Regions from separate parts of the Homo sapiens genome. Here region 1 is linked to region 2. A link means that fine-mapping ties the variant in region 2 to the expression of a gene that starts in the linked region. Tissue or cell type: whole blood. Region 2 holds a variant in brackets; the other region holds the start of a gene. All regions are shown on one strand. Distances are from middle to middle.

Region 1 (2,500 bases), 72 kb after region 2:
CGACCCGCACGGCTGCACCGCTTCTGGGAGGGGCTGCCCGCCCAGGTGAGGGTGGTGCAGGCCGCCTATGCTCGGCACCGAGACGGCCGAATCCTCCTCTTTAGCGGTGAGTGGGGCCGGCGGCGGGGCGCGCTGGGGCCGGCGCGGGGAGCCCACCCCTGACCTCCCGGCCTCCACCCTGCAGGGCCCCAGTTCTGGGTGTTCCAGGACCGGCAGCTGGAGGGCGGGGCGCGGCCGCTCACGGAGCTGGGGCTGCCCCCGGGAGAGGAGGTGGACGCCGTGTTCTCGTGGCCACAGAACGGGAAGACCTACCTGGTCCGCGGCCGGCAGTACTGGCGCTACGACGAGGCGGCGGCGCGCCCGGACCCCGGCTACCCTCGCGACCTGAGCCTCTGGGAAGGCGCGCCCCCCTCCCCTGACGATGTCACCGTCAGCAACGCAGGTGGGGAGCGCGGTGACCTGCGGGTTACTGGGCCTGGGGGTGGGGAGAGGGATGTGGGGAATGGGGACATGGAGGCCACCCTGCGGGGATGGGGGTCCTTGGGCATCAGGGAGCGGCGGGGCGGGGAGGGACCGGGACTCAAGCTCTGCTCCTCCAGGTGACACCTACTTCTTCAAGGGCGCCCACTACTGGCGCTTCCCCAAGAACAGCATCAAGACCGAGCCGGACGCCCCCCAGCCCATGGGGCCCAACTGGCTGGACTGCCCCGCCCCGAGCTCTGGTCCCCGCGCCCCCAGGCCCCCCAAAGCGACCCCCGTGTCCGAAACCTGCGATTGTCAGTGCGAGCTCAACCAGGCCGCAGGACGTTGGCCTGCTCCCATCCCGCTGCTCCTCTTGCCCCTGCTGGTGGGGGGTGTAGCCTCCCGCTGATGGGGGGAGCCATCCAGACCGAACAGCGCCCTCCACGGCCGAGTCCCCCGCCGCTGGACCTGGTCGGGGGTTGTGAGGCGCTGCGGAGGCCCCTTGTCTGTTCCCACGGACGGGGGCTCGGGCGCGGACTAAGCAGGGGGGATCTCCCGCGCAGGGGCGGCGGCGGCGGGGACCGGTCGCCTGGCGCTGGGCTCAGTCTCCTCAGGGTCTGAGACCCCGGCGCTGCCACCGGAACCCGCCTTCAGGGGCGCACGCGCGCTGGGACCATGCGTCGGTCGTCGCCCCCGTCGTTCCCTCCCGGCTGCCGCCAGGGGGCGGTCGGACCCCGCCTCCCGAGCCCGGGGAGGGGCGGGGAGGACAAGGGGCGGGCCCGCGGCCTCACCCGGAGGGACGGCAGCCCCGGTCGCGCGCTGGCCCCGCAGGACCTTCCTTTTCCAGGAAGAGCCAGCTTTTCTCGGAGCGCAGTCCTGGGACTCTCCGCAGCCCCGCCCCGCCTGGCCACTGCGTCTGGCATTCCTGGGTCGTTAGAGGACAGGCCTGACTGCGAAGCTGTGCCTTGCCCCTCTCCCACCCGCAGTTTCTCACCCCGTTCTGCTCCCACAAGGCCCCCCTACAGTCACTGCCACACTGGTGGGGACCTGGGACCCAGACCCGGAACCAGCCCAGATATCACCCCTGAGGACCCATGCGCCACGTCCTGGGTGGTGGAATCAGTGGCTGGAGGGACGACCCTTGCTCTCCAGGCTGTTAACCTTTTCCGTTGCTCCCCCGCCACCCACCTCCTCCTCCCCAGGCCACCCAACTTGGGCACCTCCCTGGGCCCAGAACTGCCTTCCATTCAATGGGGAACCCTTCTATCCCCAAGAACCCCTTCCCTGCTTGCACCCTGGAGAGAACAGCTTGACTCCCATCAACTCAACGCTGGTGGAAAGACAGGGACCGAACCCTGGCTCAGGCCTGGTCATTGCCTCCTCAGCACTCCCTCCTGGGAGGCCTTAGCTCTAGAGTGAGGGGTGGGTGGAACCTGGGGGCACCTCGTTCACCCTGTCCCCACTCCCCACAGTTTTAGGATCTAAATGATTGCCTCTGGAACTATTCTTCTAGACTATCCCACATCAGAATCACTGGGAAATTTAAGTTTGCAGATCCCACACTCACCCTGAATCCTCACTCAGGGTGGGGTCAGGAATCTGCATTTTAACTAGTCGCGGGGATTGTGGGGGGCAGTAGCTGGCTGTTTCGTGGCATTTCTGTGGCTCTGCAGTGTTCCTCCACCCCAGGACCAATATGTTCAGGCCACACCGATGGCCTGAACCCCATGGGTAGAGTCACTTAGGGGCCACTTCCTAAGTTGCTGTCCAGCCTCAGTGACCCCCTAGTGCTTCCTGGAGCTGAGGCTGTGGGCGGCTGTCCCAGCAACCATGCGAGGGGTTGCCCCAGTTGCTCATACAAACAGATCAGCATGAGGACAGAAGGCAGGAGACTTTGGTCAGTTACCTGGGAATTCTGGGCTGCCAGGAAACGATTTGGGCCTCTGTCAGTTTCTTTTCCATGTATGAGGAGGGGGAAATTTGTATATTAGAAACTTATTCATCCCACTCAGGACAATAAAAACGAATGTACAAAAAG
Region 2 (2,749 bases):
CCTGGGCCTGGGTCCAGCACTTCCAACACCCCTGCTCTCACCCTGCCCTTGGCCCTCAGCCCTAGCCCCTCATAGCTGCTGCTCTGTTCCGAGGCTGTGCTGTGTCCCCTCAGGCCAGGGTGCCTGGGAGCAAAGGGTAGCCCAGGTCAAGACTCCATCAGGGGCTCTCCCAGCCCACACACAGTCTCTGTGCTGTCAGGCAGGCCCTGCCTGGGTGGGTCTGGGGGTGAGCAGAGAGGACTGGCTGTGCTGGGAGTCGGAGTGGCGGCATTGCAGGGGCTGGGACACCCGACTGGGTCCAGCCTGGTCCTGAGTGGCTGTCAGGCTGGCCCGAGGCCCTGGGCTGGCTGGCATTTTCCAAGGTCATGCCAGCACCAGGCAGCCTGGCAGTGGTAGCGGGCACTGGTGTTCCCTCTGGCAGTGGCCAAGCAGGCGCCCATCCGTTACCTCCCACAGGGCGTCTCCTGGTTTCCCGCCTGCCTCCTCTTGGGCTACGCTTTCCCAGCGCCCTGCAGGGCAAGCCATGTGTCTGTGTAGGAGCTCTCAGCCGGCCCAGGTCTGAAGCAGACACCTCGTCCCATCTGGCATAACTGGGCCTACTGCCCGCCTGTAAGCATGTAAGGTGCTTGAGAGCAGGGACAGCAGACGTGGGGACTGCCAGACTGCTGGGGTTCAGATCTCAGCCCCACTGCTCCAGAGTTGCACAATCTGAGCCAAGTCCCTTCCCCCTGCCTTTGTTTCCCCATCTGCAAACGAGGATAAGCAGCAGTTCCTCCCAGTAGCCCCAACACAGAGTTGCTCTTCTTGTCATTTTAGGGGAGAGTGAACACACTCGGGAAGGCCCCGAACCAGATGGAGTGGGTGTTTGCACCCTGTGTGAATCCAGCACCCAGCTGCTAGCCCCGGGGCTACTCGGCTGCCCTCCGTGAATACACGGGGGACATGCGCCTGCTGCCATGGGCGGGGCAGGTGGCCTGGCAGGAAAGCCCTCTCCAGGAGTCTGAATGGACCGTCCCAGCTACCCTGGGCACTCATAGGATGGATGGGGCCAGGGAGCATCCCTGAGCCCCTGTCAGCAGCCCATGAAGGTCCAGCCTCGGGGACCCCAACTCATGGCTGTCTGCCAGGCAGGACGGTGGGGGGGCGGTTCAGGGCACTGTTCTGAGGCGCTGGGCTGAGGGGGCCTGCCGTGAGCAGACAGTCCTCGTGCACAGGTGGGTCTGTGGTTGGGAGGTGGGCACCGCAGGCATCGTGGTGTGCCTGTGGGTGTGAGCCCTGGGGATGGCTTCATGTGTGGGCAGAGCAGCAGTGGGGCACAGCCTACGATGTGGGTGAGAGGGGAGGCAGAGAGGGAGGGGGCACAGGGACCTCAGTGCTGGGCTGGCCTATGAGTGAGGGTACCTGGTGGTAATTAACCCTGTAGTCTATTGGCGGCTGGACCTGGCCGCAGAGGTGTGGGCTCAGTAGCCTCTCTCGGAGAAGCCCCTGCTGCCCCTTCCTCATTATAGCCCTTCTGCAGACCCCCAGCCTAGCTGGGCTGACTGGCTTGGCAGGCTGGACTCCTTAGCCAGAGGTACCAGGAGGGGCTGGCTGGGCCAGG[G/A]ACAGGCCAGCAGACAGACAGGGTGTGGGGCCTTCTGGACCAGGGTGCAGGGGCTAGGGGTTGAGTCACTGCCGTCCCCAGCCAGCCTGGTGGGGTCTGCAGGCTCATTGGGGCGTGATGCCTGTTGTCCAGACCCCCATGCCCAGTGCCTCCCTGCCAGGCCCCCAGCACAGGGCCCCGGCTCCAAGTCCATCCACCCAGCCCCAGGCATGGAGAGCTGCTCGCAGCCCCCCACGTCCTCTCCTCAGCCTCTCCTGCGGTCCTGCCCCCCAACACTGTGTGGTGGCTCCCCTAGTCTGTGACCCAAAGTTAGAGTCACTGCTGGGGCAGGAGACGAGGCAGAGCTGGAAGGCCTCCGCGGACTCTCAGAGAGGCTGGGCACAGCTGGCCCGTCCTCCTGTGTCCCTGCCCCTCATGGAAGGAGGAGGGAGGAGGAAGGGGTGGCTCTGAAGTTGGGGGCTCTGGCCCACTCTGGCAGGCTGAGCCTCCATGAGGACAAAGGGCCCCCTGGTGGGGTCTGTGTGGTCTCAGGACTAGACGGGATGACACCTGGCTTTTGTTGGGAACACCACCCGCCTGTCAGACAGGGTCTGAGATGCTGTCACCCCCACCCCTGCTGTCTGCAACACTCCAAAGCCCTGGTTCCCGCCCTCTCCCCAGCTGTGTTTGGGCTGGGCCTAGGGTGCCTGCCTGCCCCTTGCTGGGGGGACATCTGAGCCCTCTGGGCCTGGCGCCAGGGCCTGAGTCGCTGACAGGGGCGGAGAAGTCTAGGGGGCCTGTCCTGCTGTCAGCGCCCATGATGGATGAGGGGCCAGAGCTAGACTCCTGCCACAGGGGGAGGTGGGGGTGACCCCCCAGGGTCTGCAGGCAGAGCCTCTGCCTCTCACAGCTGGGGGGCCTGGGCGAGGGTCCCCACCCAGCCAGGGGTGTTTAAAGGCCCAAAGGGCGTGGGCCCTCCCACTCTGCCTAGAGTCATGGGCGCCTGGGCCTTCCCCGCAGCCCTTTTCCTTCTCTGCCTGACTTCCGAGAGCCTGCAAGGTGGTGAGGGCAGCTTGGGGCTGGGGGTTGGAGAATGGGCATCTGTGACTGGGGCTGGGGGTCCAAGTGGGGCCCTGGCCAGATGCTGGGGTTCTGGAGACAAGGAGGGCT

The links. PIP is the estimated chance that this variant, and not a neighbour inherited with it, causes the effect. A credible set is the group of variants that fine-mapping cannot tell apart.
Region 1: it holds the start of MMP25-AS1, and the variant in region 2 is the best candidate, but not a certain one, in a credible set for the expression of MMP25-AS1 in whole blood (INTERVAL, PIP 0.75).

What each region holds. Positions count from the first base shown.
Region 1 is chr16:3,058,228-3,060,727 of GRCh38, forward strand. It overlaps MMP25-AS1 (MMP25 antisense RNA 1), which reads right to left and starts at 1,143. Exons shown (of 5, transcript NR_123723.1): 1 at 769-1,143; 2 at 313-475. MMP25 (matrix metallopeptidase 25) reads left to right here. Exons shown (of 10, transcript NM_022468.5): 8 at 1-106; 9 at 185-442; 10 at 600-2,499. The coding sequence ends at 871. LOC124900372 (sialidase-like) reads right to left here and starts at 1,143. Exons shown (of 3, transcript XM_047435000.1): 1 at 769-1,143. RefSeq lists silencers at 13-62, 93-222, 363-412, 873-1,342 and an enhancer at 1,381-2,286.
Region 2 is chr16:2,985,703-2,988,451 of GRCh38, forward strand. It overlaps GREP1 (glycine rich extracellular protein 1), which reads left to right and starts at 2,560. Exons shown (of 29, transcript NM_001396456.1): 1 at 2,560-2,638. The coding sequence starts at 2,575. RefSeq lists enhancers at 1,752-2,703, 2,704-2,749. The variant G/A (reference allele first, on the strand shown) is at 1,601.